7 linked regions of the Homo sapiens genome follow. The protein of the gene in region 2 interacts with the protein of the main gene of each other region in a biochemical or structural test. Each region holds a gene or a part of one and is shown on either strand. Other genes may lie near its edges. The genes, in order: RBX1, CUL5, RHOU, ASB9, UBE2L3, DCUN1D4 and DEPTOR.

What was found.
Region 1: the proteins of CUL5 (region 2) and RBX1 form a complex in vitro, tested with the Homo sapiens proteins (4 studies listed by BioGRID and IntAct, with this or other methods).
Region 3: the proteins of CUL5 (region 2) and RHOU form a complex in vitro, tested with the Homo sapiens proteins (one study listed by BioGRID).
Region 4: the proteins of CUL5 (region 2) and ASB9 are reported together in a solved structure, tested with the Homo sapiens proteins (one study listed by BioGRID).
Region 5: the proteins of CUL5 (region 2) and UBE2L3 form a complex in vitro, tested with the Homo sapiens proteins (one study listed by BioGRID).
Region 6: the proteins of CUL5 (region 2) and DCUN1D4 form a complex in vitro, tested with the Homo sapiens proteins (one study listed by BioGRID).
Region 7: of the proteins of CUL5 (region 2) and DEPTOR, one has a biochemical effect on the other in vitro, tested with the Homo sapiens proteins (one study listed by BioGRID).

What each region holds. Positions count from the first base shown.
Region 1 is NC_000022.11:40,964,878-40,968,377, forward strand, and holds part of RBX1 (E3 ubiquitin-protein ligase RBX1), read left to right. Parts: intron 1-2,921; coding exon 2,922-3,007; intron 3,008-3,500. UniProt on the Homo sapiens protein: E3 ubiquitin ligase component of multiple cullin-RING-based E3 ubiquitin-protein ligase (CRLs) complexes which mediate the ubiquitination and subsequent proteasomal degradation of target proteins, including proteins involved in cell cycle progression, signal transduction, transcription and transcription-coupled nucleotide excision repair.
Region 2 is NC_000011.10:108,071,398-108,074,897, reverse strand, and holds part of CUL5 (cullin-5), read right to left. Parts: intron 2,567-3,500; coding exon 2,436-2,566; intron 1,509-2,435; coding exon 1,401-1,508; intron 1,099-1,400; coding exon of another isoform or gene 1,021-1,098; exon of another isoform or gene 832-1,020; intron 1-831. UniProt on the Homo sapiens protein: Core component of multiple cullin-5-RING E3 ubiquitin-protein ligase complexes (ECS complexes, also named CRL5 complexes), which mediate the ubiquitination and subsequent proteasomal degradation of target proteins.
Region 3 is NC_000001.11:228,741,979-228,745,478, forward strand, and holds part of RHOU (rho-related GTP-binding protein RhoU), read left to right. Parts: intron 1-1,306; coding exon 1,307-1,762; 3' UTR 1,763-3,500. UniProt on the Homo sapiens protein: Binds to and activates protein kinase PAK1. Plays a role in the regulation of cell morphology, cytoskeletal organization and focal adhesion assembly during cell migration. Also stimulates quiescent cells to reenter the cell cycle.
Region 4 is NC_000023.11:15,256,584-15,260,083, forward strand, and holds part of ASB9 (ankyrin repeat and SOCS box protein 9), read right to left. Parts: intron 2,363-3,500; coding exon 2,283-2,362; intron 1-2,282. UniProt on the Homo sapiens protein: Substrate-recognition component of a cullin-5-RING E3 ubiquitin-protein ligase complex (ECS complex, also named CRL5 complex), which mediates the ubiquitination and subsequent proteasomal degradation of target proteins.
Region 5 is NC_000022.11:21,595,214-21,598,713, reverse strand, and holds part of UBE2L3 (ubiquitin-conjugating enzyme E2 L3), read right to left. Parts: intron 1-3,500. UniProt on the Homo sapiens protein: Ubiquitin-conjugating enzyme E2 that specifically acts with HECT-type and RBR family E3 ubiquitin-protein ligases.
Region 6 is NC_000004.12:51,909,153-51,912,652, reverse strand, and holds part of DCUN1D4 (DCN1-like protein 4), read right to left. Parts: intron 3,496-3,500; exon of another isoform or gene 3,201-3,495; intron 1,584-3,200; coding exon 1,479-1,583; intron 1-1,478. UniProt on the Homo sapiens protein: Contributes to the neddylation of all cullins by transferring NEDD8 from N-terminally acetylated NEDD8-conjugating E2s enzyme to different cullin C-terminal domain-RBX complexes which are necessary for the activation of cullin-RING E3 ubiquitin ligases (CRLs).
Region 7 is NC_000008.11:120,002,722-120,006,221, forward strand, and holds part of DEPTOR (DEP domain-containing mTOR-interacting protein), read left to right. Parts: intron 1-255; coding exon 256-390; intron 391-3,500. UniProt on the Homo sapiens protein: Negative regulator of the mTORC1 and mTORC2 complexes: inhibits the protein kinase activity of MTOR, thereby inactivating both complexes. DEPTOR inhibits mTORC1 and mTORC2 to induce autophagy.

The sequences.
Region 1 (3,500 bases), on a different chromosome or scaffold from region 2:
CTCCAATCCTGGGTTCCCTCATAAAATGGGGCTGATAGTGGACCACATAAAATTGTAATCCGGATTAGATGATTTATGTTAAAATGTGATTAAACAACTCCCGGCACATAGTAAGCACAAGTGCTTGTTAAAAAAAATCTAAATAGGCCGGACGCGGTGGCTCACGCCTGTAATCCCAGCACTCTGGGAGGCCGAGGCGGGTGCATCATGAGGTCAGCAGATGGAGACATCCTGGCTAACACAGTGAAACCCCGTCTCTACTAAAAATACAAAAAATTAGCCGGGTGTGGTGGCAGGCGCCTGTAGTCCCAGCTACTCGGGAGGCTGAGGCAGGAGAATGGCGTGAACCTGGGAGGTGGAGCTTGTAGTGAGCCGAGACCACACCACTGCACTCCAGCCTGGGTGACAAAGTGAGACTCTGTCTCAAAAAAAAAAAAATCTAAATAAATACAAATTTGAGGTAGAGGTGTTACTGTGTAGATGGTGTTCTCAGTAGTTTTTCCTGTTGGGTTGCAACTCTTTTTCCTACCTACACTGGTTTTTTGTTTTTTTTTTTGTTTTTTGTTTTTTGTTTTTTTTTTGAGACGGAGTCTCACTATGTGGCCCAGGCTGGAGCGCAGTGACGCAGTCCCGGCTTACTGCAACCTTTATCTCCTGGGTTCAAGTGATTGTCCTGCTTCAGCCTTCCGAGTAGCTGGGATTACAGGTGTGTACCACCACACCCAGCTAATTTTTGTATTTTTAGTAGAGATGGGGTTTCGCCATGTTGGCCAGGCTGGTCTTAAACTCCTGACCTTGGGGCGATCTGCCAGCCTCGGCCTCCCAAAGTGCTGGGATTACAGGCGTGAGCCACCGTGCCCAGCCCCTACCCGCACTTTCGGGTACACCTTCTTCCATCTTTGTTGGGACCCTTTGGCCAGGCTCACAATAGACCATGTTGGCCATGGGGGAGCTTTAATCGTTCATGGGGATAAAGGAAGTATATTGGGCTCTTTGCCCTTTCTGGCATACAGACATATACTAAGAACCATGTTCCTTTATGTGGAAAGAAAAGAGAGTGAACATCCCCTTAAATTTGGCTAAGGAGAGATTCTCTGAGAGAGCCTGCCGTAGAAGAGAGCCAGCATGGTGTGGCAGAAGGCTCTGGATTAGTCCTGGGTTCTAGTTCTGGGTCTTCTACAAACCAGCTCCATGAATTAGGCAAGTCACTTGTCTGGGTTTCAGTTTCCTGTCTGTAAAATGAAGATAAAAATATCTGTCATGCTTGCCTGCCAGGGTTGATGTGAGGCCTCAAATGAGGTAATACATGTCAACATCTTCTGTAAACTGTCAAGTACTATAAATTTATCTTCTGTAAATTGTACTTTGACCGCTAAATATATCCATTAATACATCTTAGTAAATGTTCAGGGGTGCTGTCACCTCCCTGACACCTCCTTTACAGCCCCCTTTTCCCCAGCGCGTGGTATGCTCTGACTTAGTTGGGCTCTACCAGGACACCGTACTGCTGCAAAGTGCTCAGTGGGTGAGGTGGGAGAGGGAGAAGCTGTCGAATACCCTTCGGTGAGCCCGACCCCAACACCTGATGGTTAAGAAAAATGTCTCTGCTTTCTGCCTTTTGGAAATTTTGCTCTTTCTCTTTTTCACAGTGAGTTATACAAGAGTCAGCTGAAAAGGGATCTTCCAAAAGGCTGTCACTCTAAGAGAATATTTGTCCTCTTGGGTATCCCTAGTGTACTAGCTGTGGATTCCACTCTTAGTTACTGAATTATATTTTTGTCTTTGTCAAAAAACATTTCACAAGATAATAATCCATATTATATAATCCCTTAAGTTCCATACATACTTTGGGAGACGTACCGACCAGATTTCAGTTGTTATTAAATGAAGCTTGTAAAGCTTTTGTTGTTTTGTTAGGGTGAGTAATTTCTGCCCGTGCCCCACCACAGTGCACCAATCACAGACGAAATGAAGGAAGCACTTGCTGCGTCTGTCCTAATACGCACATGAGCAGGGGGAGAAGTGCTCATTGCAGAAGCATTGTGATTAGCATCTGCATGTCATGAGCCCACGCCAAAAAACTGCATGCAGATTGTCCTTTTCCCAAATCTAAGCAGACTTCTAGCTCCCTGTCAGTTACCAGTGTTCTTGATACTCTTGTCTTTTTACTTCTTGTCTTGATTATGAAATAAGCCTTTTGATGCTCTTTAGGCTGCTTGTGTGCCGTTTGTCCCTCATAAGAATACTTCCTTTTACCCCAATTTTCTTTTATCTCATTCCCTAAGACAAAGTCCCTCACCCATTAAAGGCACGTGAAGTACTGAGCTCTTGTAATATCAATATGTCTGTGAATAAATCTAGAAATAAAGTTTCTTTGACCAGAGCTGAGCTGGGTGTGGGGAGGTTGGGGAAGTGCCCGTCTCAGTTCTGGGTGGGCGGCAGTGACCATGCACTTCTCTACCAAGGGCTGGGGAGAAGGCTCTGCTCCTACAGGTCGCATTCTCCAGGGGCAGGAGGGTGGGAGGGAAGCTAGAGACCCAGAATGGGGATATTTGAAATCTGCATTGATGAGGGGCCTCCTTTCCCAAAGAAAGTGGAAGTATCCCCTTACAGGCTGAATGGGACCAAGGAGCCACATTCCACGTTCTCTTAAATAGAAGAGAGCTCAGTGCTGGCACATACTCCTGTGCTTCCTGAATGATTTCCTTTAGTAGTAATGACATTTCTAACAAATGCTTTGTTGGAAATACCCTTGCATCTAACCAAGATATAATCAGTTGTTGAACTTTTGCCTCTCGTTGTCTTCTTTTCTTTTCTTGCCCACTATATGTCACCCATGCCACTACCCTGTGGGACCTGTTGTCGCTCGATGGCTGAGCCTGCATAGAGTTATTTTTAATAAAATATATGTTTTCTTTCAGCATGCTTTTCACTTCCACTGCATCTCTCGCTGGCTCAAAACACGACAGGTGTGTCCATTGGACAACAGAGAGTGGGAATTCCAAAAGTAGGTATCTTTGGTTGTTTTGACGGGGCTTTTTGACTTGCCTCAGGCTGAAAGGAGCGTGGTCTTGGGGGATGGAGACATGATACATGCCTTGTTTTTTTTAAAACTAGTTTTTGGTTACTTAAGCTAGGACTTATCTATATGGAAAATGCACAAAGGATTAGCCAACATTAGACATTTGCAGCCTAGGGTTTCCCAACCTTTTTTTTTTTTTTTTTTTTTTTGAGACGGAGTCTCGCTTTGTTGCCCAGGCTGGAGTGCAGTGGTGCTATCTTGGCTCACTGCAACGTCCACCTCCCAGATTCAAGCGATCCTCCCACCTCAGCCTAGCAAGTGGCTGGGATTACAAGTGTGTGCCACCATGCACAGCTAATTTTTGTATTTTTCGTAGAGATTGGGTTTCACCATGTTGGCCAGGCTGGTCTTGAACTCCTGATCTCAACTGATCTGCCTGCCTCGGTCTCCCAAAGTGCTGGGATTACAGGTGTGAGCC
Region 2 (3,500 bases):
GACTTCACACCACGCCCACCATGTCTATACTCCCTTAACTCCTTTCCTACTTTACCTACTTATTTGTTTTATTTTTATTTATTTATTTTTTGAGACAGAGTTTCGCTCTTGTTGCCCAGGCTGGAGTGCAATGGCACGATCTCAGCTCACCACAACCTCCACCTCCTGGGTTCAAGCAATTCTCCTGCCTCAGTCTCCTAAGTAGCTGGAATTACACGCATGTACCACCACGTCCAGCTAATTTTTCGTATTTTTAGTAGAGATGGGGTTTCTCCATGTTGATCAGGCTGATCTCGAACTCCCGACCTCAGGTGATCCACCCGCCCTGGCCTCCCAAAGTGCTGGTTACAGGCGTGAGCCACTGCACCTGGCCTATTTACTTGTTTTAAAATAGACAAAAAGAGTCTGGGCACAGTAGCTCAGGCCTGTAATCCCAGCACTTTGGGAGGCCGAGGCGGGCCCATCACCTGAGGTCAGGAGTTCGAGACCAGCCTGGCCAACACAGTGAAACCCCGTCTGTAGTAAAAATACAAAAATTAGCCGGGCATGGTGGTTGGTCCCTGTAATCCCAGCTACTCGAGAGGCTGAGGCAGGAGAATCGCTTGAACCTGGGAGGCAGAAGTTGCAGTGAGCCAAGATCATGCCATTGCACTCAAGCCTGGGCAACAAGAGCGAAACTCAGTCTCAAAAAAAAAAAAAAAAAAAAATTAAAATAGACAAAAAGAGTGAGAAAAAAATCCTACTGGAGAATGGAGAAAGTTGTCTTTTTAGAATCATTCAAACTTGGGAAGTAACGAAAGGTAGTCAAAGAAGAGAAAAAACTAACAGCAATTTCTTGTTATAGGTTTATTACACTAAAAAAGATACAATGCTAAGGACAGTATGGTGTTTTATTATCATTATCCTATACTAGTGAGGATGGAAAAAGATGGTATGCAATACAAATGCTTCCCTGGGAAACAAGGATAAGTATAACATAACTCCCGAAGGAGTCCCATGAAAGGACGGAGGATGGAGGAATCAACTCTGCTGGTGATGAGCTGTGGAGGGAGGCAGGACATCAAGGAAGCTCCAGGGGAAGTATTCTTTGAGCTGGGTCTTAATGGAAGGATGAATAGGAATTCAATAGATCAGTAATATTCAAAAACAGAAAAACATTCTTGGAAAAATGAGAAAAAAGCAACTTTCTAACTAAATTCTAATTCACAAGGCTATCTAATGTTTAACAAATGCTTACAGCCAAGACAAAACGAATATAGTTGTTCTCCACTGATGAAAAATAACAGTTGCTAGGTTTTTAAGTTTATAATTAATAGAAAAATAATGCAAATTGATTATTAGAAGTAAATTATGAGAATAAAACTTTTAAAAGTGTTTTTTATATATATAGGAATATATACCTTATCTCTTGCAGTAAGAAATCGTGGATCATCTTGAAAAGCTTCTTTGACGAGTTTACTAAATCTATTAAATAGTGTAAGTAACTGCTCAACGTATTTCTCAGAGTCCTAGAAACAAAAGGTTTTACATTAAGTTTTTAAAAGAAAAAGAATAACACAAAAAAATGAGAAAATAAACATAATTTTAATAAAACTCATTTAAAACTGGGGATATTTTTTCTTAAAAATAAAACTAAAAGGTGTTCCAATATTACTGTTTTGCCACTTCTTTTTTCTTTCTTCCTTTTTTTTTTTTTGAGACGGAGTCTCGATCTGTCGCCCAGGCTGGAGTGCAGTGGCACCTTCTCGGCTCACTGCAAGCTCCACTTCCTGGGTTCACGCCATTCTCCTGCCTCACCCTCCCAAGTAGCTGGGACTATAGGCGCCCGCCACCCCGCCTGGCTATTTTTTTTGTATTTTTAGTAGAGAGGGGTTTCACCATGTTAGCCAGGATAGTCTCGATCTCCTGACCTTGTGATCTGCCCACCTCGGCCTCCCAAAGTGCTGGGATTACAGGCGTGAGCCACCTTGCCCAGCTCCCTGTTTTACAGAGAAAATAGTAATTTCAATTACTATTTTCAATTTTCAATTCTGTATTTTTAAAAATTTAATGTTTTTATTTGTAATCAACACATAATGGTACATATTATGGGGTACAATGTTATATTTCAATGCATGTATATACTATAATGATCAAATTGGGGTAACTACTATATCCATCACTTCAAACATTTATAATTTCTTTGTGGTAACAACATAAAAAATCTCTTCTATCTTGAAATATACACTACATTGTTACTTGCTATATCCGCCCTAATGGGTAATAGAACACCAAAACTTATTCTTCCTATTGAACTATAACTTTATACCCCACTAACCAACCTCTTCTGCTCCCCCAACCCCCAGCCTCTGGTAACCGCTCACTATTTTCAATAATCCTACATTTAAAAAATAGCCTTGATATATATCTATCATTGCCATTGAAAAAAAACTTACAGTAGTAATAGTTTCAGCAGCTGCTACCATATCTGCCAGGCCAGCACTAATGATATGTTCCTCCAAGTCTTTCAACATTGGCTCTATACCATTAGGAACTTTGTCCATCAATGAAAACATTAAATGTAATTCTGGAAGGAGAGAACACATTCATGTAATCATTTCATTTACTAGAGTAAGAGTTTAGAGAAACATTAGTTAAGTTTGTAATGTTAATAGTATTCTGTGGATACAATGCCATTAGGAGTAGTTGTTCGTTTTTTTGTTGTTGTTTTTTTGTTTTTGAGACAGGGTCCCAGTCTGTCACCCAAGCTGGAGTACAGTGGCTCGATCACGGCTCACTGCAGCCTTGACCTCTTGGGCGCAAGCAATCCTCCCATCTCAGCCTCCTGAGTAGCTGGGACCACAGGCACATGTCACCATGCCTGGCTAATGTTTTTTGTAATTTTGTAGAGACAGGGTCTCCCAATGTTGCCCAAGCTGGTCTCAAACTTCGGGGCTCACACAATCCTCTCGCCTTGGTCTCTCAAAGTGCTGGGATCATAGGTATGAGCCACTGTACTTAGTCTAAAAATTATGTTTAAAAAAAAATCGAATTAAAAGTGATCAGGCTGGGTGTGGTGGTTCACGCTTGTAACTCCAGCACTTTGGGAGGCCAAGGTGGGAGGATCATTTGAGCCCAGGAGTTAAAAAGACCAGTCAGGGCAACATGGCAAAACCCATCGTTACACAAAAACAAACAAACAAAATTAGCTGGGTGTGGTGGTGCATGTCTTTGGTCCCAGATACTTGGGAGGCTGAAGTGTGAGGAATGCCTAAGCCCAGGAGGCTGAGGCTGCAGTGAGCCGTGATTGCACCATTGCACTCAGCCTGGGTGACAGGGCAAGACGGTCTCAAAAAATAAAAATAAAAAAAGTGATCAAATACTGCAAAACCCAACTCCTTTCTTTAAAAGGTCAGTCATTTGGCCAGAAGCAGTGGAGATCAGCCTGGGCAACAAGGTGGGGCTCTGCCTCTACAAAAAATACAAAAATTAGCCAGGCATGGTGGTACACGGCTGTAGTC
Region 3 (3,500 bases), on a different chromosome or scaffold from region 2:
TACAGGTTTCTTTTATACCAAGAGAAAAAAGCCACGGATGGAGTATAATGTGATGTAAATGGTACTTGGTAAATAATCGGAGTGTGTCAATTGAGTAATGAAAAACATGAATGGCGTTGAACTTTTTCTTGTCATTGGGAAATTATTTATACCTGAGGATGGTTGGCACCAACAGATATACATTTTACATAGGAAAGAGTAAATATTTTTCTACAAAAGAGTTGAGCAAAAGTTGTCAGTTAGCTGAATATGGTGCTACAGGGAACTATAGGATGTTTTCTGTAAAGAAATGGTAATTTGGAGAACAACATCTGTCTGTTCACAGCCAAATCCCCTCGCCTGCCACTGTGCCTTGAGTGTAGGTGATGTTCAGTGTGTCTGTTAAATGGATGACCACGGGAGAGCATTGGCAGCACAACCGTTGGTTTATTTGTAATCAACTCTAACTTATTCTATCCACTTCTCTATACTTTAAGGGTAGGGTGGGCGTGCCTATTCTCCAGTTCTTATCTGTCCAAAGCACTGTACATGGAGGCCATGGGTACTGGCAAGGATAAAGGAAGTAGGAGAAAATGAAGGAAGGAGGGAGGAAGAGAAGATACAGCCAGAATGAGGATGTATTAACTAGTGTCTGTAAGTGGCACTGAGCTGCAAAAGTTTTCTGAGTCACGATGACAATGGACTGACAAAGGTCCTCAACTCCATTTCTGGTCTGGCCTTGAGTCTGATTAGCATTACTCTGCGTTGCTGTGCATAGTGTGGGCAGAGCGTGTGCACAGTGCAGATGGGATGAAATTGGCATCACTCAGAGCTGTTGGGAAAGGCAGGGCTGGATTGATAAAGAGAGGAGCTGTGTTCGTAGACTGGGTTTGAGTGGGAGTCTTGAGGATCAATATGGGTGTGGTCTGAATTTTAGAAGAGTAGCTAAGTACCAAGAGTTGAGAGTAGGTTTGGGTTACACTCAGCTGAAGGCTTAAGTCCATTTTATTTCTAGAACCCACCTACTTTGAGCACTTTTTCTATGTTAAGCTGTAAGTAGGTCTTGAGTGTCGATGAACACGTTGAACATGTTTGGCAGTGTTCAGACCATAGCTGGCCCTGAAAGCAGATGGCTGCCACACCTTCGCTGGTGCACTGGCCCCGCTTGGGTAAACAGTAGGATCGTTTCAAGGATGCTGGCTCTTCCTTCTAGAACCAGCGGGTCTTCTATCACCTGCCAGACCCTTTCATGAAAAATGTGAAGGTGATCTTTTTACTGATGAGAATTCATGAAAACATAACTTTTGGGTACTTTGCTTGGTTGCAGGATGAATTTGACAAGCTGAGGCCTCTCTGCTACACCAACACAGACATCTTCCTGCTCTGCTTCAGTGTCGTGAGCCCCTCATCCTTCCAGAACGTCAGTGAGAAATGGGTGCCGGAGATTCGATGCCACTGTCCCAAAGCCCCCATCATCCTAGTTGGAACGCAGTCGGATCTCAGAGAAGATGTCAAAGTCCTCATTGAGTTGGACAAATGCAAAGAAAAGCCAGTGCCTGAAGAGGCGGCTAAGCTGTGCGCCGAGGAAATCAAAGCCGCCTCCTACATCGAGTGTTCAGCCTTGACTCAAAAAAACCTCAAAGAGGTCTTTGATGCAGCCATCGTCGCTGGCATTCAATACTCGGACACTCAGCAACAGCCAAAGAAGTCTAAAAGCAGGACTCCAGATAAAATGAAAAACCTCTCCAAGTCCTGGTGGAAGAAGTACTGCTGTTTCGTATGATGCTGGCAAGACACCCAGAAAGGCTATTTTCAGATGAAATCGATATTAGAAGCTATATTAGCTGAAACAACTCCTTTTACTGCGTAGAACCTATATCGAGAGTGTGTGTATATGTATTATAGGAGGAGCTCTCAATTTTATGTATTCTTTCTGCCTTTAATTTTCTTGTTTGTTTGAGCTTAGGGATGAGATACTTATGCAAGATATTTTTGAAGTAAATTAAACATTTTTCACATCTCTGGAAATTTAGAGTTCTAGACCTCTGGTTAATTTATATCTAATATGAAGAAGACACCTCTAATCTGGATGTTAAGAATGAAGTTCTGCTACATTATAATGTACAGAAGAGCAAAAGGGAGGAACACTATGGTTAACCCTCTCTTGATTAAGGGCTACTTAATGCACAGTGCATTATGTACACAGGTCAACCATGGTAACAATAGTTCTTAGCTTTGAAACTCCATGCAAACCATGCCTTTTTTTTAAGGAGCAAAAATCTGAGAAAAAAAGTGAGAGACCTCTGCCTACAAAACCTCAAACCAGTCACTTTTGTCAATTGCTAATACCCAGTTACTTATGATTTAAAAACAACCAACAGAAAACATCCCACTGACTGTATGGCACTCTGTAGTCAAAAAAGGAAACTTCCTTATTGGGACTTTTCTTTCTTAGTCCAGTTGTGTTGACACATATGAACACAGACAAAGTGCTATGCGGAGGAAAGCAAGTGTTGGTCAGTAGTTTCATGTTTTAGGGAGTGGTTCCTGTGGAGATCAGAAAGTGACATTTGCTTTCGGTACTGTAATACGTGCACCAAACTGCCTCAATCCTAGGTAACGAGGGCAACAGGGAGCACCTGTCTGGATTGTTTTTAAACCTCCATACTCAAGCTGTCTCTTCGGCAGGGAGGTGAATACTCTTGAAAGGCCAACAGCAAGTGTTTGTGGGACACAACACAGATAATTTTTTCTTAAGTCGGCCAAGATGTACTTCTCTGTGTGCACACCCATGCACACTCATGCACACAGATACATAGGTCTGTATGGCTGTATTTGCTGTTGATTCAGACTTTCACACCATTAATGGGGAAAAGCGTGGCCACAAAAACAGATGCTAGGAAGCTTGGCTTCCTCTTCTTGTTGACCCTTTTTTGAACCAACATCTTTTTTATTATATTCAGAGTATGTTTTTAAGTGTATCTTAATATATACATTTTTTAGGACATCTTAAATCTAAACAAAAAATAAAATGAACATCTCTTGAAACCTGTTAAAACAACCAGTTAAAGCCACAGATGGCTTTCAGGGCAGTAGCAGCAGAGGCCAGTGGACTCTGAGGACTCCTGAGGGGCGGGGCGTGTAGCCAGCCAGGTGCATGCCGGGACCATGGCCCCCATACTTGGCTGCTTCCTGTGACAGTGAAATACATCCTTCAAGGTGGCAGCTGTTAGGGCTGAATCTTCTGGAGAAAAAGGTGCCATCTCAGGAGAATAGCTTTTACTCTGGTAGGAATGCTTCCGAGACACCACAAGGCAGCCTGAACACTCAGTTGCAGGGTCGGGCTTGCGGTGGGTGACCCAGAGCCACCAAAGTCACATCCACAACTAATGAGGGAAATCTGTAAAGCCAGTTAGATAGAAGAATTTTATTTTTCTGTGGGTTTTGTGTTGTCTTTTTTATGTTAAAAAGAAATCCAGTTTGTGTTTTTCTATAGAAAAAGTAAAAGATCAGGTTATACT
Region 4 (3,500 bases), on a different chromosome or scaffold from region 2:
TGGCTAACACGGTGAAACCCCATCTCTACTAAAAATACAAAAAATTAGCCGGGCGAGGTGGGGGACACCTGTAGTCCCAGCTACTCGGGAGGCTGAGGCAGGAGAATGGCGTGAACCCCAGGGGGCGGAGCCTGCAGTGAGCCGAGATGGCGCCACTGCACTCCAGCCTGGGCGACAGCAAGACTCCGTCTCAAAAAAAAAAAAAAAAAAAGAAAGAAAAAAATGTGCCAACTTTTGTCGTGATCAAAGAAAAGAATATGTCATTTCTTACTTTACTATTCATACCTAAGACTTAAATGTCCAATTGGCAGGAGAAAATATCTTATTTTCTCACAGTCATCACACTTATAGAAAGTAGCTTTGTCAATGCCACAAGAGGGGTATGATTGTCACATGAAGCAAAAATCATGCAAGTGTATCAGACACAAGTTGGGGGAAGGCAGGCCGAGGTACAGAACTTGGGCAAAAGGCAACCATAAAAACAACCAATAGGAAAATGTGCATACTCCTCCAGGCACAACTGCCATTGTAAAACCGGCATTTAGACCAGGCACGGTGGCTCATGCCTATAATCCCAGCACTTTGGGAGGCTAAGGCTGATGGATTATCTGAGGTCAGCAGTTTGAGACCAGCCTGACCAACATGGTGAAACCTCGTCTCTACTAAAAATATAAAATTAGCGGGGCGTGGTGGCACATGCCTGTAGTCCCAGCTACTCGGGAGGCTGAGGCAGAATTGCTTCAACCCAGGAGGCGGAGGTTGCAGTGAGCCGAGATCGCGCCACTGCACTCCAGATGGCAACAAGAGTGAAACTCCATCTCAAAAAAATAATAATAATAATAATAATAATGATAAAAATAAAACCAGCATTTAGGTGTTTATACATAAATCCACGTAAATGAAATACAACAACACAGCTATTCGTAACACAAAAAGTTTTCACCACATATTCACATTGCAGAGAGGTTCCTTCTGTAAAGTTAGAAACTCATTTGTAGTTCATCATCAAGCTACAGTTCTACCTTAAATTAACTGTGATTTGTCTAAATTATTAACAAGTCTGAGTCATATAAAATCATAAGGTAATTAACCCATTACTTCACAGTGTTCAGTCCACAGTCAGTTCTTAGTTTTTAAAAAAAGATTGAATGGCTTAACTTTAATATATCTATTTTCAGTCGTCAACTACGCTTAGTTGACAAAATGTACTTCTCTTGAGCCTTGACTTTGGATGTGGTCATGTGACTTGACCAGTGGGATGTTAGCAGATGTGACATGAACAGATTGGAAGTATTCTTGCATGGTGGGGCTTGTCCTGCTGTGCTCCAGCGTTTTGCCAAGAAAAAATAATTCCTCAGGTAGCCAGTGGTCCAAGCAGGATGAAAGAGATGTGCAGCAGGGCTACACCCAACCCACAGCTGGGAGCCAAGCCCAGCCAAGCCCAGCCTAGATGAACTGACACAAACACACATCAGCAAGAAATAATGGTTACTGTATCATGTCACTGAGTTTTGGGATGGTTTGTTATTGAGTTATGGGGTGGACTGACCTAGGTAGGTATTAGAATACTCATTTTATGAAAGCAGAAACCGGGGCTCTAAAAAGACATCTTACACAAATAATGTGATAGAACTTGGAGATATGGTTCTGGCTGATGTTTCATAAACACATAAATACTGAATGTAAATGAGTATCTGTCCAATTTAAGAAGTGATATATAAAAGCTGCAGTGATCATTTTTCATGCTATCAAAATAGGGTAAATTTCTAATTTTATCTGAGAAGTAGCCTAACTTCTTTTAGCTAGAATTAGTGTTATAATCTATTTATAATAGACTGCTGCTACCAAAAATGGCTTAAGATAGTGGCTTAGGATAGTATGAAATTTTTCTTTAGAAATTATTTTCTTATAGGAGGACTTCTTACTCTAGATAGGTCTATGAAATTGGATTTTTTAAAGCACATTTATTCTCACTCAGCTCTATCTGAAATTTAGCATTTCCTTCAGTTCAGAATGTAGACAACAAACCACAGTAGTAATAGTATTATGTAGGGTTATCTCCAATAGAAATTACAGATATTTTCTATTGTATTACAATTGCTGTAGACATCTAAAATATCTCAAAATCTATACTCATCCTATTTAGACGTTATGGTAGTTACTAGAATCACCACTAGGTCTTCTATTTAATGAATTAATTTAAAAGTCCCTATGTTATTATGTCACACATTTGTTTTAATATTTTGATAGGTTTCTTCTGTATTGTATTTTCAAAAAGCTACCTGGCTGATGAGGTTCCTCAGAGACAGCTGATGTCCGTGGATTGCAGCTTCATGCATAGGAGACCAATCAGACACAGCATCTGTATGGAAAGAGGGGAATGGGTTATATCCTGCTAATGCACTTAGACCCAGAGGCTTATCCTTGCCCATCAATAAGAGCCTAACAGGCCCTGGATGGAGGGAGACATTGGATTCACTCAACCAAAATTCCCATCAGGAATTCAGCATTTCTCTTCTTTATTAATATTTTTTGTGCACAGTTTGTTTGAAATGTCTGGATAGCTTGGGAAAGAACTACAGCCAGTCCTCAAACTAAGGACAAAAGAGGTGGATTGGGATGACAGATTACTCTATTTCTATTTACACACTGGTTTCAAAGGCAAATGGCCCATTTAGTTAAGCGAGAGCTTCACTAATTACCAACATTAGTGTGTTAAGCTGTAGCTGTCAGTCTAGTTTCCTGCATGAAATACAGACTTTGGCATCTCACCAAACAGTGTTCTGTATTAATAGTAGTAATCATGTAATTACATACACCATTAGGTTTGGAATCAAATCTAAACAGAACCATATCTATTTATAGATTATCTCCTGTCCTAATATTAAGCACAAATCAGTGTTCAGTCTCACCTTGAAACAGGGACATTATTTACCCTCAAAGGCAGCATGCCAAGGTGGTTAAAGAAAGCTCTTAATTCAGACCCGCTTCACCTTTTCTGACCTGTGGGTCCCGGGAAAGGCCCAGTGCCGCAGTTTCCTTCTCTGTAAAGTTACAAGTTGAGCAGCCCTAATATATAACATACAGGTTGAGCATCCTTAACCCAAAACTCCCAAATCCAAAATGCTCCAAAATCCAAAGCTTCTTGAGTGCTAACATGATGCCACAAGTGGAAAATTCCACATCTGACATGTGATGGGTTGCAGTCAAAACGTTGTTTCATGCACAAACTTATTTAAAATATTATATAAAATTATCTCAGGTTATGTGTGTAAGGTGTATATAAAACATAAATGCATTTCGTGTTTAGACTTGAGTACCATCCACAAGATAAGTCATTATGTATATGCAAATATTCCAACATCTGAAAAAACTGGAAACACTTCTGGTCCCAAGGATTTCAGAGACGGGATGCTCAACCTGTACTTACCATGGCTCAACACATACTAGCTACTATTATTATCCTGCCCTAACACTAAACAGAGAGTCTTAATTATACC
Region 5 (3,500 bases), on a different chromosome or scaffold from region 2:
TATTATTATTTTAATAAAATAGAGACGGGGTCCTGCTATATTGCCCAAGCTGGTTTTGAACTCCTAGGCTCAATCGATCCTTCCACCCCAGCCTCCCAACATGCTGGGAATATAGGTGTGAGCCACTGCACCCAGCCCCCATCTCTATTTATTTAAAAAAAAAAAAAAAAAAGGAAAGGGAAAGGGAGAAGGAAAGGGAACTAGAAATCAATAACAGAACTAGAAAACTCACAATTATGGGGAAATTAAACGTACTCTCTAACAAGCAATGGGTCAAAGAAGAAATCACAAGGGAAATTAGAAAATATCCTCAGAAAAAAAAATGACATACCAAAACTTAAGTTATGCAGCAAAAGTAGTGCTCAAAGGGAATCTACAGCTTTAAATACCTACATTGAAAAAGCAAGTCTGAAATCAATAATCTAACTGGATATTTTAAGGAACAAAGAAAGTAATAACACAAGAAAGAAGTAAATAGTAAGCACAGAGGAGATAAATGAAAAACACACACACACACATTAATGAAACCTTCCTTGAAGAGATCAACAAAATTGAAAAAACTTTAGCTAGACTGATAAAAGGAAAAAGAGAAAAGACTCATATTATTAAAATAAGAAATGAGGCAGGGCATAGTGGTGTAATCCCAGCACTTTGGGAGGCTAAGGCAGGCGGATCACTTGAGTCTAGGAGTTCAAGACCAGCCTGTGCAATATGGCAAAACCCCATCTCTACAAAAAAAAAAAAAAAAATACAAAAATTAGCTGGGCGTGGTGGCTCATGCCTTCAGTACCAGCTACTCTGGAGGCTGAGGTGGGAGGATCGCTTGAGCCTGGGAGGTTGAGGCTGTGGTGAGCCATGATCATGCCACTGTACTCCAGCCTGGGCAACAGAACGAGAGCCTGTCTCAAAAAAAAAAAAAAAAAAAAAAAAAAAAAAAATCTACATATAAATGGATCAAAGATCCAAATTTAAGAGCTAAAACTATAAAACTCTTAGAAGAAAACTCAGGAAAATTTGCATGACCTTGGATTTGGCAACAGTGTCTTAAAAATCAAACCAAAGTATAGGCAACAAAATTAAAAATAGATAAATTGGACTTCTTTATTAAAAATTTAAGGCCAGGTGTGATGGCTCACATCTGTAAATCCCAGAGCTTTCAGAGGCTAAGCCAGGAGGACCACTTGAGCCTGGGAGTTCAAGACTAGCCTGGGCAACACAGCAAGACTCCATCTCTACAGAAAAAATAATTAAAATTAGCTGGGGGTTGCAGCATGTGCCTATAGTGCCAGCTACTTGGGAAGACTGCTTGAGCCCAGGAGTCTGGGGCTGCAGAGAGCCATTATTGAGCCACTGCACTCCAGCCTGGATGACAGAGCAAGACCCCTTCTCTAAAAATAAAAATTAAATTAAAAAATTTAAAACTTTAGTGCATCAGGCCAGGCACGGTGGCTCAAGCCTGTAATCCCAGCACTTTGGTAGGCTGAGGCGGACAGATCACTTGAGGTCAGGAGTTCGAGACCAGCCTGGCCAACATGGTAAAACCCTGTCTCTACCAAAAAATACAAAAATTAGCCAGGTGTGGTGGTGCACGCCTATAGTCCCAGCTACTCGGGAGGCTGAGGTGGGAGAATCACTTGAACCCGGGAGGCAGAGGTTGCAGTGAGACGAGACTGTGCTTCTGCATTCTGGCCTGGGCAACAGAGTGAGACCCTGTCTCAAAAAGAAACAAAAAAACAAAAAACACACCATGCAAAAACATGTTCTACATCCTTAGTATGAAGAAAACAGAAATCAAAACCACAATGAGACAGCACTACATACCAACTAGAATGGCTGTAACGTAAAAACAAAAAAAAAGTAAAATAACAAATGTTAGCAAGGATGTGGATGAACTGGAACCTTTGTAGTGGAAATTTAAGACGTTACAGGATGGGCGCAATGGCTTATGCCTATAATCCCAGCACTTTGAGAGGCTGAGATGGGTGGATCACCTGAGGTCGGGAGTTCGAGACCAGCCTGACCAACATGGAGAAACCCAGTCTCTACTAAAAGTACAAAAATTAGCCAAAATTGCTTGAACCCGGGAGATGGAGGTTGCAGAGAGCCGAGATCGCATAACTGCACTCCCCAGCCTGGGCAACAGAGCAAGGCTCTGTCTCAAAAACAAGAACAAAAATTAGCTGGGCATGGTGGTGCACACCTGCAATCCCAGCTACTCGGGAGGCTGATGTATAAGCATCACTTGAACCCAGGAGGCTGAGGTTGCAGTGAACCAAAATCACACCATTGCACTCCAGCCTGGGTGACAGAGTAAGACTGTCTCAAAAAATAAAATAAAATGGAATAAAATAAAAAGAAATTGGCTGGGTGTGGTGGCACACACCTGTAGTCCTGGCTACTCAGGAGGATTGCTTGAGCCCAGAAATTCAAGGCTGCAATGGGCCATGATCACACCACTGCACCCTAGCCTGGGTGACAGCACAAAACCCTGCCTCAAAAAACCAAAACATTATTATGAAGTTATGAAATGGTTTATTAAAAACTGCATGAAGGCCAGCGTGGTGGCTCACGCTTGTAATCCCAGCACTTTGGGAGACTGAGGAGGGTGGATCACAAGGTCAAGAGACTGAGACCATCCTGGCCAACATGGTGAAACCCCGTCTTTACTAAAAATACAAAAATTAGCGGGGTGTGGTGGTGCGCACCTGTAGTCCCAGCTACTTGGGAGGCTGAGGCAGGAGAATCGCTTGAACCCGGGAGGCGGAGGTTGCAGTGAGCCGAGATCGTGCCACTGCATAGCGACAGAGCGAGACTCCAACTCAATTAAAAAGAAAAAAAAGAAACTGCATGAAAAAAGGCTGAGAGGAAGTATGCTGAAGGTTAAGAGTAAACACATTCACTGGGCTAGAAGCTTCAAGAAGGGTGACTACCACACCTCTAGTTCCTAAAGGGCAGTACACAAAATGTAACTGAATTTCTTGATGATGTGATTATGGGTAATATTTTCTTCCTTAGACGTTACCTTAGCATCTTAGATGAAAAAAAATTACAGAAAAACAAATGTTTAAAGGGAATAGACCAGAGTTGCGTTGGCAACAATGAAGTCTCTAGGAAGTACCTCCCCAGCCTTCCCTCCCACCTGCCCTCCTCTGTGCACTACGACCAGGGCAATCGCTAGGTGGCTACCCAAGGACAGCACCACTCTCCACTAAGGACCAGGGCTGGGCTGCCATGCCTTCATCGGCCTGGCTCTACTTTTACCCCAACTGGGCAGACCTCAGGTGAGTTTGTATAGTAGATTCCCATGCTGGCCCAGCCCGTCCAATGCAGGAAGACCTAAAGCCCAGGTTGGGGTACAAGTGTGGACCCTGGGGATGTCAGATGTCAACAATGCCTTAACTGCTCTGGAGAAGGAAGAAGACTTCATTGAAACATTCCTCATACAAACCCAGGGGCCCTGGAAGAAAGCAAGGGAGAGGACCGAGAAGAAGTGGTATACA
Region 6 (3,500 bases), on a different chromosome or scaffold from region 2:
CTCTTAGACGAGAAATTTGCCATGTGTCTATTTAAAAATACAGTATCCCTGTATGAAGATTCATAAATAAAATCCAGAACCAATGATTTTTAAATCTTCCCCACTAAAATCAGAAACATAGTAAAACAATACAAGTACATAAAAAGCAAAGAGAGTTGAGTCAATGGTTTTGAGGATGCAAACACAAGAAAAGCTGAAATGAGAGGAATACTGTCTTTTTTAAAGAAAAATGCAAACTAATGTAAGAGAGAGAACAAAGCACAGACTACAAGTTTAACTTTCTAAGCAGGTAAAAGCAAAAACCAGTCCTGAAACAGTTGATGATGCACCTGGAATTACACAAAGTCAGATTTCCTCCAGGCCAGGTCTTCCAGCTTAAGACTCTTTACACACAGGTGTAAATCCAGCTAAACTCTCTGAGAACAGGGAACTATTTCTATTTATTTTTCCAAATAATGCTAACTCATCTCAAGGGATTGTCAGAGAAATTAGAACAGACCATATGTCAACATGGACTATTTTGGGTAAACAGATACTTACGTAAAACTAGTTTTTAAATTTTTGAGGAGTCCCACTTAGTAATGTTAAAAGAAATTTTTAATAACAGTTCTCAAAGAATCCTATCAGATATTAAAAATATTCTGGACCATTACATAAAGTAAGTTGTGAGAAAGATTATTCAAGAGTGAAGCCAGAGTCATCTTACGGCCCAGCATTTTCTCAAAGACCCAACACCCTCATCCTTGCAAGCAAAGGACACTTTTTAGAAGGGCTTGGGGCAGGAGGGAAAGGAGGATGCCATATATGACAACCCAAGTAACTCAAACTTGTATCCCATATACTTCCAGGTCCCACAGAATGACACTTCAACAAAACCAGTAGCTCAGAATTTCTGATCATCAATACTTAAAAGCACACAAACAATGATGGAATAAAGTGCTGGATTGTTCTGATACTGATCTGAAGACAATTTAAACTGAAGGAGATATTGTCAGTCTGCCTAATACTTAGATTGATCTAAGGTCCTCAAGTTACTTGGTGACAAGAGTAGATAAGAACATACTACAAACTAATTTTGGTAAGAAGGCAGATGACTGTCTTTTAAACCTCTGCTTAATAAAAGTGGAAGTTCATCTAAAGTCAAAAGAAAGTAAATCTTCTTTTTCTATTGTTACAAAGAACAGAAAATCTAAACAAAAGTGAAGCTTTAAAATGGGGATGAGAAAAGAGAGAAAAGGACAGAGCTGTGGCTGTTTCGGATGCATTTTTAATGTGGAATGAAGCAACACAACATTAAACGCATACACAGATGCACTCCAAGAAGATAGGTAGCTGCTGACTGACAGCAATTATGTCACCGTAATTCCTACATAGGCAGAAAAGTACAACAAACAAAAAATTACATACAACGGGTGAATAAAGTTATTTGGTAGTTCCAAGCAAGCAAACATACATTTCATAAAACAACAATTTGGTACCTCTAAGAATTGGTGAAAAACTGGAAAAAGGGGCCAGATTTTTCCTAATAACAGTCCCAACATGCACTTGGCAGTGTTTATGTCTAGGCTGCGCTGGTCCTTTTCCTGTTTAACAAACAAAAACAAGGATGAGCCAGATGCCCCCAAATAATAAATTCCAATAATTGCAAATGTGTATTCACTTCAACAGGAAATTAGTAAACAGCTCATTTATCATACACCTTAAAGACCCTGCATCCAGACTAAGGTTAGGGAGGGGAGGTAGTCAAACACAATGGAAGGCTTGGGCATTACGATATTATATAAATTTACTGTGAGAAAGATTTATGTCAACTGAATGATCACCCTAATGCAAAATCAATTAGTTATGTCGTAGCAGTTTCTACAGGCTTTTCATGGGATTAATAAAAACTTGTAACTCAATCACTTGCTTGTTTGATATTTATGATAATTATCAAAATCCTAATTGTTGACCATAAAGCCTATAACTCAACGGAGCTTAAAGGTTTTGATGCCTATGATTAGGAATCAGGTTTCCTTAATAAAAACGAAATCAATTTGATTTCATTGATAAATATTTTTCTTGAACCTAAACATGCTGGAATTGACTTCAGCTCATACCAAATGCTGGGGCTCTGAAGTGTCTCTCTAAATCAGAGGATAGATTCATCTACCCACTCTGGTGGAAGGCAGGAAGTCTATCAATACAGTCCTTCAATAGACAGATAGATAGATAGATTTCTTAGACGTAAATTTCCTAGTAAAATACTCCTAACTAGTAACCAAGTGAAAGACAACATTTCATAAGGACACCAGAAAAAAAGATAAGAACATAAACCTAAATAAGGGCAGGGTAAGCTCATTCCACTTACATTTGCAATTAAGGATCCTAATTTCTCATTTCCGTCTTTCTTATATGCTTCCATTCCAGAACTACAAGCGGTCAGTTTCCATGGAAAGGAATAGAGGGCCTGGGACCATAAGCATACCTTACATATCCAAAGCTAGCCTCCATGTGTTATCTTAACTACAGTGGAAATTTGTAAAAGTAGTTTTTTACAAAGGGAGAAAGTGCCTGGCTAGCCCAGTGCAGTGGAATCTAAATGTTCAAATTAAGGGATGATGCTGTGACCACCACCCTAAGCCACATATGCAGCCATATATACCTCCTGATAAAATAAATCATCACTGCAAGGACGCTTAACAGTGAGGTACTCTTTAGTATACAAACCATTTCTAGCCATGACCCTGAATTGGGACTTAATACAGCAAATGTAAGGGCCTCACTTAACAACAACAATCAAGGTAGATGAAGACAAGGAAACTTGTTGCCTAAGGAAGATGTGCAATAGATCTGGCCTTTTGGTCTCAGTTGTGAAGTGTAACGACTGTCCATGAATAGACCAGGTCAGATGGCTCCACATCACCCTTCTTTCAGAGGTCACATAACTTAAGTCTGATGAGGGCAGGTGTATCCCAGTTCCACAGTTCTATGCAAACAGGTGGGACCTCCTTTCCACAGGGTTCTCTGCCTGTCCCTTGGCCATATGTATTGTCCTGCTCAGGGCTGCAGTACGCACTCCCAATGGAGAAGAGGACAGGAGAAGAGGTGATCTAGAGACTGCCTGCCTTTTGCCAGACAAACTGCATTGGTTTGTTGTGTTTCAAGGGCTTACACTTCTGTGATGACACTGTGCAAGCAAATGGAAAACTTCCTCTTACCCTGTAACACAGGTGTGGCAGACGGCAACAGCACACCATACTATGAAGCAATCCACAAGATAAACGAGTAAACTGTTGAGAAACACACGCGGCACCACAGGACTCGGCCAAAGTCCATTTGTTGAACAACAGCTTATGCAGCACTGGGCTGACAACACTGGCGCTCTGGAAGAGTTTTCCCTTTGCAGAGTTTGTAATCATTCACTAAACCCCAAATCTCTAGTCTTGCTGTGATATATATTGTGCCTTCTTCCACCATCATCAATACCTATGTCCCCGTCACAATGGACATACACTAAG
Region 7 (3,500 bases), on a different chromosome or scaffold from region 2:
GAGCCCAGGTTGTGTCACGTACTCCAGCCTGTGCAACAGGGCAAGACTCCATCTCAAAAAAAAAAAAAAAATATATATATATATATATATAATATAAAGTAAGTGGCAGAGCTGCAACTCAAGTTCTTGTTTTTCTGCCACTAAGACCAGTGTGCTTTCTCCTGGCCCCTCTGGACCTTGCAGTTGAAAGCCTATGTGCTCTAGTGAGCCGAGACCACCCCCTTGGTGACTGTGTGTGTTCTCTGGCCTACACAGTGAGCCCCAGCAAGGAGATCAAGATCGTGTCTGCAGTGAGGAGAAGCAGCATGAGCAGCTGTGGCAGCAGCGGCTACTTCAGCAGCAGCCCCACCCTCAGCAGCAGCCCCCCTGTGCTCTGCAACCCCAAGTCCGGTGAGTGCCCAAAAGGTGGCCCCGCTCCTAAGACTGTGGGGACTTGGGCAGGTCCCTGGGAAGCAGAATCTGAGATAGCGGGAGACTAGTGTGTGGGTTCTAATAAGTTAGAGCATGCTCTTGGGGTCCACACGTGTTGAATGGAAGGGAAGGAAGAATTGGGCTGAAGGAGAAATTGGGTTGTAGCCCAGTCTCAATGAAGGCTATCATTGACCCAGTAAGACCTCTGGAGCTGGGATGGCCCTTCCAAGTTGCCTGGAGTTGTGTTGAGGGGGCTGGGCCTTTAGATCCACATGTTGGCCACTTATTAGGTATTGGCTGCCCCTGGGAGGAGGGCATGACCTTGGGCAAAGCAGGTGTCTTCAGAGAGATGGTCTCCAAGACAGCTGAGGGCTGTCACCATTAGCACTCTCGGAGCTGGGAGAAGTCCCTGAGCCCTGAAGGGTGTTTTGGGCAGTATGTGACAGTGCTCACAGCAGGGGAAACAGCACTTCCCCAGAATGCAGCCGATGCATAAGATCTGTTGGGGCCCAACACCCTTAAGGAAGAAGCATGGATGTGTGCAAACCCAGCTATCCCTGGAATTGACCCTGGGTGTCTTGTGGTTTCAAAATCTGCTCATCAACCTCCATGGCCTTTATATTCCAGGAAAAAAATCTAGGCACAAAATTGTTGGTGAACATGTACTTAGAAACAATCCTTCCTCCACCCAATCAGTTCATCAACCACCCAGGAACTGGTAATCCATTGAAACTACCCTTTCTCACCATCCCTTACCCACCTAATGTCCTCACTTGCCAGGATGAGGATGTGTGGTCCATCACTACAGTAACCGCCAGAGAACACTCTCAAACCCATTTGTTTAAGGCACTGTCCACCCCCAGTTCAGTTTGTCACCTTCGAGGAAGAGGCTCTGTTCCTTTTGTTCATGTTGTTTCCTCATCATCAGATCTTGGGGATACAAAGATGACAGGTCATAACCCCCAACTCAATGAAAACACCACCTCTTTGGAGAAAAAAACAAAACATTTCATGTTAGTAAGAATAAGCACTAATTGATGCAGTTCAAAAGGCTTTGAGAGAAAACTCTGTCATCTAATGGTATTATCTAGGAAGGTGGCTCTTTTTCCTGATCTAACTTTTTTTCTTTTTTTGCTGCCTTCTGGAGTGTTAGCAGCAGGAATAAATGTAACCTGTAAGTGAATGAAGAAGCTTGCTTCCATACTGTCCTGGCTGAAGAGTCGTTGAGTACTGGGTTTTTCAATTACTGGAGCTTGCTGCTAAAGTAGAATGAAAAAGGAGAACTGAATTCTTAGAAATGGGATGTTTGAAGCCTTTGTAGAAATCTGACAGGCATCCTCAAAGTTAAAAGCAAAAGATCTCAGTTTCAATAAAAGGGTCAGTGGTGCCATAACCATTTTACAAGTTTTTGATTGCTTATGATGGAGTATGAAAAAAGTGTTAATTACTGAAATTAGCAACAAAATCCATGTTCCCTGAGGTAGGTTAGCATGTTTCCTCTTTCTCCTTGCCTCTGGGTCAAAGGGAAGAGTTTACTGTTATGCAGGCAGAAGAAAAAGGTCTCGTTTCCTTTCGTGGGTCCCCAAGGACAAGAGCTGTCAGGACTGAGTTGTGGTTTGTAAATTCCACTTCTTACCCATAGTTTGACAAGCTTCTCTCTCACTCTTAAGAGGATTCCCAAGACCCAGTGAGTTCATCTGTGATTTTTTTTTCTCAAGCAGATGATCAGGCCTTCACAGTGATGCATTTAAAAATTAATTATCTGAAATACACCAGGATATGTTTTTTTAGTACTGTATATAAATGCCCTAAGCCAGACACAAAAAACAGTACTAAAGATATTGATGTTATCAGTATCATTGTGATAAGCAAATAAGCTTCCAAGGATATGAAAAGAAAAAAGTTTTCCCTAGGCCTCAAAGTTTCTATATTTTTCAACATAATAAAGAGAAGTGCATTAAAATGAATGGTCAGCTCTGCTGCCAAATAGTACAGTGTGATTCATGTATCCAAATTCATAAGCCCCCTGAGGGTTTATGGGGAGTGGAGAGAGAGTTACCTGACAGGGAATAAAAAAGATCTCAGTCCTCAAATACTGACCACTTTTCTTACCTCCCATCCATCTGCTGAGAGATTCTGTTTCCATCTTGATATTTGACCTACTCCCTCTTGTTTGGCGAACATAAATTAATTTTTGCTTTTATGAGATTTCTGAAAGCAAAGGTGATAAGATCAGCAACCTGTCACCTCAACAAGAAGCACTGGATTGCCTTTCACTGAGAGGGTGCTTCTCAGGCCAGAAGGCCGTTCATGTAACCAGTGGGCGAGGTCCAGCTGCCTGGTAGATCATCACGCCTTGCCCCACGCTGCCTTTCCTTGTCTGCTGCACACTCTTTCCAGGACTGGTACCTGGCCTCTGACTGTCACTAGCAAAGGGGATCGGAGGATGCCACCTCACCAGGTTAGGCCCCTTGGCTGGGGCCTTTTCTGTTTCTCTGTGGCACTTCAAGTTCACAATGTCTGCAGAGCTGGATTAGAATGGTCTCTGTCCCCTGACCCCCTGGCTACTTGGGGAGGATACGACAGCCCCTCTCCAGTTCTTAGTGAGCACAGGATGGATGGGGGGGTTCATTATCGGTGGGTTTTAGGCAGCCGCAAGTCAGGAATTGGCTGCTGTCTGCCATCTTGGTGGGCAACAGCAGTGAGCTGATGTGAACGGGTGTCTCAGGAGGACAGCATGCCACTATCTTCCTGAGCTTCTAGACCCTTTCTTTTGCTTGCAGGACAGCATGGCCCAGAGTAAATGTGGCACAGTAGCTGAGAGTGTGGGTGCTGGTGTCTAATGCCTGAGTTTGATTCTACTTCTGCCACCCATTCGCTCTGGGACCTTGGACACAATCAATTTAACTTTTCTAAGGTTGTTTTTGCAGTTATAAAATGGGGATAACAATGATCCTAACTCATTCATTCTTGTGATGATTAAGTGAGTTAATATATTCACCTCACATGGTGCCTCTCTAGCATATGTTGAGTACTCAGAAAAGTTCACTAGCATTATTACTCATGGCAGAAAGCAGTGGGTACATGCA